3 linked regions of the Homo sapiens genome follow. The protein of the gene in region 2 interacts with the protein of the main gene of each other region in a pairwise test. Each region holds a gene or a part of one and is shown on either strand. Other genes may lie near its edges.

The links. The genes of interacting proteins can lie anywhere in the genome.
Region 1: the proteins of IDH1 (region 2) and FAM131A interact in a two-hybrid assay, tested with the Homo sapiens proteins (one large-scale study listed by BioGRID and IntAct).
Region 3: the proteins of IDH1 (region 2) and AGGF1 interact in a two-hybrid assay, tested with the Homo sapiens proteins (one large-scale study listed by BioGRID and IntAct).

Annotation. Positions count from the first base shown.
Region 1 is NC_000003.12:184,336,297-184,340,399, forward strand, and holds the start of FAM131A (protein FAM131A), read left to right. Parts: upstream 1-1,303; 5' UTR 1,304-1,334; coding exon 1,335-1,422; intron 1,423-2,090; coding exon 2,091-2,233; intron 2,234-2,536; exon of another isoform or gene 2,537-2,684; intron 2,685-4,103.
Region 2 is NC_000002.12:208,241,572-208,245,071, reverse strand, and holds part of IDH1 (isocitrate dehydrogenase [NADP] cytoplasmic), read left to right. Parts: intron 1-1,467; coding exon 1,468-1,645; intron 1,646-2,926; coding exon 2,927-3,078; intron 3,079-3,500. UniProt on the Homo sapiens protein: Catalyzes the NADP(+)-dependent oxidative decarboxylation of isocitrate (D-threo-isocitrate) to 2-ketoglutarate (2-oxoglutarate), which is required by other enzymes such as the phytanoyl-CoA dioxygenase.
Region 3 is NC_000005.10:77,063,569-77,065,734, forward strand, and holds the end of AGGF1 (angiogenic factor with G patch and FHA domains 1), read left to right. Parts: 3' UTR 1-1,666; downstream 1,667-2,166. UniProt on the Homo sapiens protein: Promotes angiogenesis and the proliferation of endothelial cells. Able to bind to endothelial cells and promote cell proliferation, suggesting that it may act in an autocrine fashion.

The DNA of each region.
Region 1 (4,103 bases), on a different chromosome or scaffold from region 2:
ACCGACTCCGGTTCGCTCCCACGGCCTGCCTGCCTTGGGGTTTTGCAGGGCAGACGCATGGTCTCGCCGCTGGCTGCCGTGTGCCCACTGCTCAGGGTGGCCGGAGACGCACAGCCCCGGGAGGGGCTGGGCAGCCCGATGCCCCCACCACTCCAGCCCTCGGCGACTGGCCTTGCGCGCCCACACACACACTCCCCTCCGCCTACACCTCTGCCTTCACAGTCCTGGGAGTGGCCCTGTGCTGGGAACCTGCTTCTCCCAGCCGTGTCCCCATCTTCTTAAAGAGGTAGCCTTTCGGTCCTGGCTAAGCACCCTACCACAGAATTTTTGTCGGACATTGACTCCCCTCTTCAGTCAGTCGGCGAAGGGGGACTGAGGTCCCGTTTGGGGCACCTGTGAACACTGAATCACCTCTCACCTATTACAGTTGTTTTAATGTCCTGCCCCCACTCAGCAAAAACAAATCACTCTACTCTGTGGAGGGAAAGAGGAACCCAGAGGCAGGCCATCAGGGCTTCCTTCCCACAGTGCTGACCCCTGCCTGGGCCTCGGTTTCCGTGGGTGGCCATGCACACCGGGCCTGGCCGTAGTCCTGTGCATCAGAGGTCGGCCAGCTTCCTTTACTCCGGTGTGGTGGATTTCTCCACGCATAAGGCAAGGCAGGACTGGGTTTGGGATGGGTCCTGGACCTTCAGGGCAGGTGGTCAGTCACACAGGCCTTGGTGTGGTTGGTACTTGATGTTCTTTGGAGCTAAGACTGGCTGAGATTTGTACTTCCCTTGAGGAATTCTGGGATTTGTAGTCCTAAGTTAACCTCGTGGCTTTTGAAGCTGAGGAGCAGCTGACTGCTCTGATCTCTCTGGCCCTATCAAGGCTTGGAGTTCAGGAAGTCATCACCTTCTCTTGTCAGGGGTGAGTTTGGCTGACCTCAGGACTGGCCTCGAGAGCCCTGGTTAGGTACCAGTTGGGGGCCAGGGATGGCCTGTAACCTCCTGTTTTCCTTCTGGTTGGTAGCATTTCTGGGGACCAACAGCTGGCCGAGGCTCAGGGATAGAGACGGCTGCTCCAGCTAAAGGTCAGTTGTGATGTACATTGCCTGTTGGCACTGTCTAGGGAATGGGCCTCAGCTCCCCGAGTCCCAGAGAGCTTGGCTGAGCCCTGGTGTTCCCACCTCCTCAGAGCCATGAGGCAGGAATGTTCTCCTTATGTGACTAGGCACAGGTTCCAAATGGGGAGGGGACTGGCTCAGCATCCGGAGCCAAAACAGGAATAGAACTGGGAGCTGAGCCTGGAGCGGTTCTGGGCTTTTGGTTCTCTGCATCAACACAGCCAGCATGCCTATGATTTCTGTGCTGGGCAAAATGTTTCTGTGGCAGCGTGAAGGGCCTGGAGGACGATGGACTTGTCAGACAAGTCGCAGAGGTGAGACCAGGGATCATGGATGTGATCTGGGAGATGATGGGAAGCTGAGCAGTAGGGTGCTTAGGTGGAAAAGGAAAATTACTCTGGCTTAGATATTAAGAACCAGGCTGAAACAGGGAGAACCAGGCTGGGGCCAGACAGGGCATCAGGAAACGGCTTCAGGGGACAGGGGTGAAAATCAGAAAAAATATCATGAGTTCGTCAGAAAAGAAGAGTAAAGAGCTGTGGACCAGCTGAGGCTGGCGAGAGGAAAGAAGGCAGCAGGAAGAGAGAAGGAAGGCAACCCTCCTGCAAAGGGTCCAGGGTGGCGGTGGTGGGGGGGACAGTGATGGCGGAAGAACTCAGTGTGCTTTCCAAGAGGAATGGGTAGGCTGGGAAACGGGAAGGAGAGTCAGAATTTATCATTGTTTGGTTTCACCCTAGGGTTTTGAGGCAAAATTTATCCAGAGCAGGAAGGTGGCAAGTGGGCTGCCACAGAATGGCCCCAGGGGCCCGAGGGTCAGTGATGTGTGGGATGGGGGCTTTTAGAGTTGAGGAGAGCACTCAGTGGGCGCTGGTCTTCTGGAAGGTGGGGGAGGGGCCGAGAAATGATACGGCAATACTGGATGAAAATGGGGATCTCTGCAGAAGTAGGGGCACAGCTCAACAGCCTTTCCCCTTCCTCTCAGTGTCCTCGGACCCCGCTTGGGCTGTGGAGTGGATCGAACTTCCTCGGGGTCTCTCTCTATCCTCTTTGGGATCTGCTCGAACCCTCCGAGGCTGGAGCAGGTCCTCCCGCCCTTCCTCGGTGGACAGTCAGGACTTGCCAGAGGTGCTGGGCCCCTGGTGGTGGGGGGAAGGAGGACGTCATCCATATAAAGGGGATCTGCAGCCCCCACCCACGCCTGGCCAGCCAGCTTCTGGCTCCCTTTTCCGGCGGGCGGAGGCGCTATCCGGCGGCGGGCCGGGAGGCCGCCCCCGTGCCGGTCTGCTCTGCTCGGCGCTGTGCCAGCAGGCGGAGAGCTCGCGCCTTCCGCGCTGACGTCAGCGCATCCCGGGCCGTATCCCGGGAGACCCTGTTGCGTGGTGATGGGTTGCCAGGGAGACATACACCTTTTCTCTGGGCCTGGGCCGCAGCTGCGCGGAGCGCCGGGCACGGATGGCGGCGGCTGAGGGGAGCGAAGCGAGGGAGGGAGAGCAAGCTAAGAAACACCCAGCAGGTGCTCCCCCGCCTAGGCCTGGCTGGAGGCTACTGGCGCCACCCTGGGGGCCCTGTCAGCCAGGTACCCAAGGGGAGGGATCGAGGGTGGGCCTCAGGTCAAGGGGCAGTGTTGGCTGCCCTTGTGAGGGACGGGAACGTGATAGAAGAGAGCTGGGCAATGCCGGGGAGGGATGTGTGCCTCCAACTTCATTAAGTGAGGGAAACATTTGCTGGGGCTTGTCAGGGAGCCCTGAGCCAGGTACAGGGTGGAGTTAGGAACTTACGTGCATCAGACTTAGGCCTTGCCATCCTGAGCTCCCTCGGGAGACAGACAAGGGCAATGATGGGGGCGGGGTGTGTCAGAGAAAAGAAGAGGCTGTCGGCTGAAAGCATTATTTGCAGGTGACACTTGAGATGGGCCTTAAGTGATGGCAAGCATTTTTTCACGTAAGGATGGCATTCTTGGCCCAGAGGAAAGCTGAGTTCCTTTTCCTGGAGGCAGGCGGGCTGCTTGCTGACAGGGATTGGTGGAGAAGGGTTTTTGTTTTTTGTTATTTATTTTTATGTATTTATTTATTTGAGACGGAGTTTCGCTCTTGTTGCCCAGGCTGGAATGCAATGGTGCGATCTCGGCTCACCGCAGCCTCTGCCTCTGGGGTTCAAGCGATTATCCTGCCTCAGCCTCCAGAGTAGCTGGGATTACAGGCATGCGCTGCCACGCCCGGCTGATTTTGTATTTTTAGTAGAGGCGGGGTTTCACCATGTTGGCCAGGCTGGTCTCCAACTCCCGACCTCAGGTGATCCGCCTGCTTCGGCCTCCCAAAATGCTGGGATTACAGGCGTGAGCCACTGCGCCCGGCCTGAGAAGGGGGGTTTTATTGGGCAGAGGAGATCAGCAGTGGATTCAAAGGAGGCTTGGAAGGAGGCAAGGGTGTCACAGAGTGGGATCCTTCAGGGCCTGGGTATGATGCCTGCACTAACCTCACTGGACAGTAGCGTAGGCTAGACAAGATTTTAGAGATGTGTTGTGACCAGCTGCACTCCAGGAAAACTGTTTACATTATATCTTACCTCATTCATCCAGCCTTTGCATTTTTGTTTGCTTGTTTTTGAGACAGAGTCTTTTTCTGTCGCCCAGGCTGGAGTGCAGTGGCACAATCTTGGCTCACTGCAATCTCCGCCTCCTGGGTTCAAGCAATTCTCCTGCCTCAGCCTCCTGAGTAGCTGGGATAACAGGCACCCGCCACCATGCCCTGCCCATTTTTTAAATTATTTTTAGTGGAGATGGGGTTTCACCATGTTGGCCTGGCTGGTCTCAAACTCCTGACCTCAGATGATCTACCCACCTTGGCCCCTTGGCCTCCCAAAGTGCTGGAATTACAGGCGTGAGCCACCACGCCTGGCCCAGCCTATGCATTTTTTTTTTTTTTTTTTTTTTTTGAGATGGAGTCTTGCACCGTAGCCTAAGCTGGAGTGCAGTGGTGCGATCTCGGCTCACCGC
Region 2 (3,500 bases):
ATGCATTTATCTTAAAGCACAGAGAGAAGGTTGGCAGAAATCTGCTGTGCATGAATTATATACATTAAATATTAATATTCTCAAATCACCCAGCATATAATCCTGCCCTTTGCTCTGGTAGGGCTCTTGTATCTGGAAGAGGTTTCCTTATATATTTGCTGAAGTTTTCTTCTTGCCCTTCTGGGTATTTATCCTGTGAAAAAGTAGAACATTTGCTTTTTGCCTTTTCTTTCCCAGCTACCCTGCTACCTTTGATGGCAAATCCCACCCAAAAGTTGTTGAAATAATTAGTGGGCCCTTTTCCTTCACTATTGAAGTTGTTGAAAGCACTCACACAAACAAAAATACCCAACACTCACCTACCTTTTGTTTTTCTTGCCTCTTCCAAATAATATCTGTTGGAATCTGGTTCTGCAGGCTTCAGCACCTTTCACCCTGAACCCAAGTTAACCCTGAGCATTGGCATGGATTCAAGTTCTATCTTTAAGTAATAACAAAGTTCAATAATAGTTGTAAAACACAGTGATTACATGTAGCATAATTATTTCTACTTATTTCTACCAACTACAGTAGGAGTGCTCAGTATCCTCCAGGAGATTATAAGAATTTTCATTCAGTATTTGAAATTTAAGTTTTTCTCAATAACTGAGGATTGAGTACACCCCTAAAGTTTAAAATAGATGTTGGGAATTGTAAAGGTAGGGTGTTTGTCCATTCTTGCGTTGCTATAAAGAAATACCTGAGGCTGCGTAAGTTATAAAGAAAAGAGGTTTAATTGGCTCATGGTTCTGCAGGCTGTACAAGCCTGGCTCCAACACCTGTTCCTGGTGAGGGCCTCAGGAAGCTTCCAATCTTGGCAGAAGGCAAACAGACAATAGGTGTATCACATGGCAAGAGCGGGAACAAGAGAAAGAGAAGGGGGAGGTCCCAGACTCTTAAACAACCAGATTTCAAGTGAATTAACTGAGCGAGAACTCACGTAATCACCAAAGGGGATGGTCCTAAGCCATTCATAAGGGATCCAACCCCATGTTCCAATCTCCTCCCACTGGGCCCCACCTCCAACACTGGGAATCACATTTCAACATGAGATTTGGAAGGGACAAATATCCAAACCATATCAGTATGTAAAAGAAGTTTCAAAATTATTTGCCTTTTCTTAAATGTATTTCTGGTTCATATCAGTTTTTGGCATTTCTGCATCTTCAGGATTTTAAAGACTGTATGTTTTTTCATTTCTGCTGTCCTTCCAAAACAAGTTAGAATGTCCTTATCTAGAACTGGCTTTTCTCTCATTATGTGCCTCAGAAATTTGTTGGAAACCTGTCTGGGACTTCTGAAATCTAGTCTCAGATGTGAGAGCTGAGAAGTAGGTCATTTGGTTGTGGTGGGTGATTTTAGCCTTATTACAACTACATTACATTTATTCTTCTCCCTTTTTTCCTCTCACTGGCTTCTCCTCTACAGAAGGTGGTGGTGTTGCCATGGGGATGTATAATCAAGATAAGTCAATTGAAGATTTTGCACACAGTTCCTTCCAAATGGCTCTGTCTAAGGGTTGGCCTTTGTATCTGAGCACCAAAAACACTATTCTGAAGAAATATGATGGGCGTTTTAAAGACATCTTTCAGGAGATATATGACAAGTAACTATAGTTCTTTTTTAACTTTTTCTTTATTCTCAAGTAAGCTGACATTTGCATATAGAGTATGTATCTCCCTATCCCTATGATTCTGGGTAAATTGAGTGAAAATCATCACTGTCTCTTAAAGATAAGGGCAAAACTGAGGTTTAGCAGGAGTGAAACAAAACCACTCTGACTTGCTTTTATAAGATAAACATGTTCTTAAATAAGGTCCCCACATGAATTGTTTTCAGAGCCAGGTTCTTTAATGTTTAAATAAACGTACGCTGTTAGTGATAAGTTCTAATTTTTCATGTGTGAGTTTCTAAGTCAGACCCATTTCCATTCTTTCTGAAGCCCATTGTTAGAATTTAAAATTCTGTTGGCCAGGCACGGTGGCTCATGCCTGTAATCCCAGCACTTTGGGAGGCCGAGGCGGGCGGATCACGAGGTCAGGAGATCGAGACCATCCTGGCTAACACGGTGAAACCCTGACTCTACTAAAAATACCAAAAATTAGCCGGGCGTGGTGGCGGGCGCCTCTAGTCCCAGTTACTGGGGAGGCTGAGGCAGGAGAATGGCGTGAACCCGGGAGGCGGAGGTTGCAGTGAGCCGAAATCACGCCACTGCACTGCAGCCTGGGCGACAGAGCGAGACTCCGTCTCAAAAAAAAAAAAAGAAAAGAAAAGAAAAAAAAGAATTTAAAATTCTGTTTTAGTGGAGTCATTTGAACTTAAGTCTAAGTTTATAACAACACTGGCTTCCACAGCACAGGAGGTGAGCATGTGTTAATATTTAAGATTGGCATAACTCCCTTTAGGTGCAAGTGTTCAGGCCAAAATGTTCCTGAGGCATTTTGATTCCTCCTCCTGCTGCCCATCTATACCAAGCCCAGAAACTGTCTGGAATATATTTTAGTTTCCTGAATGACACCAAGAAGTAGAACAGTCTTTTCAAAAATGTATTTTAAAAATAAGCTGAATCTCAAGAATCTGATCTATAGTATAATGAAAACTGAAAAGTGAAGTAGTCATTGGGATACTCTACTGTCTCACTTAATTCTCACGGCTTCCCTGCAAGGTGGGTAAAATTGTTCCTACAGATAGTCAAATTGAGTTTTACAGTTAGAAAATGATTGGGCTAGGATTTGAGCCAATGTCTGTCAGATTCCTGAGTTTCTGCTACTTCTACTAAAATATGCTGCTTCTTGTGTGTCCGGTCTTCTGTTTGGGACAAGCAGATGATATCCCTAACAAAATCAATTTTCTTTATTATTATTCTCTTTTACCTTTTGTTTCCCAGGCAGTACAAGTCCCAGTTTGAAGCTCAAAAGATCTGGTATGAGCATAGGCTCATCGACGACATGGTGGCCCAAGCTATGAAATCAGAGGGAGGCTTCATCTGGGCCTGTAAAAACTATGATGGTGACGTGCAGTCGGACTCTGTGGCCCAAGGTACAGAGGTGGAGCCTGGCCTGTAGGAACAGGGTCATTCCAGGGTAGTTCTCTAATTTGGGAAGGGGAGTTTTGTAGTCCTTTGTTGTAAAATCTTGGAATGTTAAACCTCCAGGTCCACCGTCTTACCTGACAGCTAAGGAAATTAAGCTCAGACTAGAGAAATGATTTACTCAAGACCACATGGGAAGTAAATTAGTGGATTGACACTCCTGGCTCCAGTGTCACTCCTTGAAGTTTTAAAGCCTACCTGATCTGAAAATCACTCCCTTTCCCTGCCCTCCTTGTCCTTTGGTGAAAATGTAAAAAACCAGGGCACTCAGGCAAGGAGGGATAAAGTGAGGAGCTTGATCATGTCATAACCAAGCTTTGGTGCCTGCAAAGCTCATTTATTGGGCAGCAGGACCTACTCATGTCCCTCT
Region 3 (2,166 bases), on a different chromosome or scaffold from region 2:
AATGACTTAAGTGTACATCTGTTCTTGTCTCCATATATTCATGTAAGATGCACAACAAAAGAAACATCAGAAGTTTATAAAAATAAATCTGACTATATGCATCCTCATTTATTCCCTTTAGAACCTAGGTAAAAAATGTTGCGAAAACATGGGTAGTGGCGCATACATTTTGTTATCCTTGAAATAGCCTAAGTAATGTTATTGAAGAACTAATGAACAGGTAACATATTGTAGAAAATTAGTCTTTCATTGTTTTCTTCTGTGAAGAATCTGTTGCTATGTACTGTATATTCAGCATTTATATTTGGTTTGTTTCATAGCTAATGAGGTATTTAGATATGAACAACTGAATACATATTGAAATAGTGTGCTGGCTTTTGTAGTTTTGATAAAGACCATTGCAGGCAATGGAATTGTGCCAGAGAAATCTGATTTCTAGTACAAAAGGAATACTTAGCCAGGGCCTCAAGCTCAAGATACTTATTGAAAACATCCTCAATTGCAATAAAAACATTATAACATGAAAAAGAGTGATTTTTTGAACCGGTGATTTAAATGTATTGATCTGCTTTGAATTTTCAAGCAGCCAGAATTTTCTAGTTTAAATTGGCAGAGTTATAACAAAGGAGAGCCTCAAATATTAGACAATTGCAGTGCGGCTTTCTGGGCACAGGTGTCACTGCTCTGCCACCTATCACTATTCTTTTTCTGTTCAGTTTTTCTCTCAGGTGTTTGCTGGGAAATTAACACTGGAACTGACCCTTTTCTGGCAGTGAATGTAAGCTCTAGCTCCCCCATCTACTATAAAGAAATGTCTTCGAGATGTAGAAATAAGGAATATTCTGAAAATAAAAATTATACAGTAGTAAAGATAATTCAGAAAGAAAAAGCTACCTGTTAGAATTTCCAGTCTAAATGGCACAGGGTAGTTACGGAGAAAAGGGGATGGAGAAGGAGAAACTATGACTAAAGATGAGAGGTATGAACGAGTTGTCAGGTTCCTATGGGCTTAAGCTAGGACAATCAGGCCCTAAACTCCAAATTTGGATAAAATATCTCTTTGCATTCTTCTTGGCCACCTGCATAGTCTGACACATACGTATGTACAGTTAGACTTGCAGGCTGCAGGAGTGCCCTGCATTGTTTTCTTTTAATTAGAAATAAAAAGTATTAGTCTAAATGTGGTTCTGGTGCTGGTGCCCTGTATATATGTAACAATATAGGACCCCTCCAAATAGGTTTTGCTTCTGGTGAATCTTGGTCATTGGGTTAGTATATGACTGTCTATAATATTTTCCATTTGTATTATTATATTGGGGAAAACATTTTTTATCATTTTCTATTAAGAAAATGGAAAACTTAAATATGGTGTTAAAAATGGAAATATATGTGATATTTGCATTATTAAACCCCTTTGCAGATCTAAAGTCTCAGGGTTCCACTATTAGTGGTTAAAGTACTGAATAATGTCTGGGTCTATTTCCATCTGTAAAATAAGAATATTTGTCTCACGTGTCTGTCATGAATAGCAAATGAGAAAATGTATATAAAAGCACTTTGTAAATTGTAAAAGTAGTACAGATGTGAGCTTCTATTTGTTTAGAAGCATAAATGTGAATTATATACAGTTTGAATTTTGCATAAATTTTTTGTGTCTAATTTTAAATATTTGTTTAATCACACTACACATTTTCTGAGTAGCGTTTAAGTATGTATTTTAAGTGGAGCTGCAAGTTCTGAATTTTAAGAAATCTAACATCTAATATTTTTGCCAGAACATAAGCTGGCAAAGTTGAGAACAGAAGAAACTTTCAACATTAGAGTAAAATAGAAATTTTTTCCAGTATTAAATAGAGGAAGCACCCTTATCCTCAAAAAGAGGAACTTTTTTCTGCTTTTGAAACAAGTGTTACTTCTGATGTGTCATTTTTATCCTGCATTTATAGAACGTAATGGTTTACGCAAATCAAAAACCTTCTGACTTTCCATAGAATATTTTTAATTTTTTATGATTTTTATTTATTTATTTTTTTGAGACAGAATCTTGCTCTGTTGCCCAGACTAGAATGCAGTGGTGCAATCTCAGCTCACTGCAACCTCAACCTCCTGGGTTCAAGCGATTTTCGTGCCTCAGCCTCCCAAGTAGCTGGATTACAGGTGCATGCC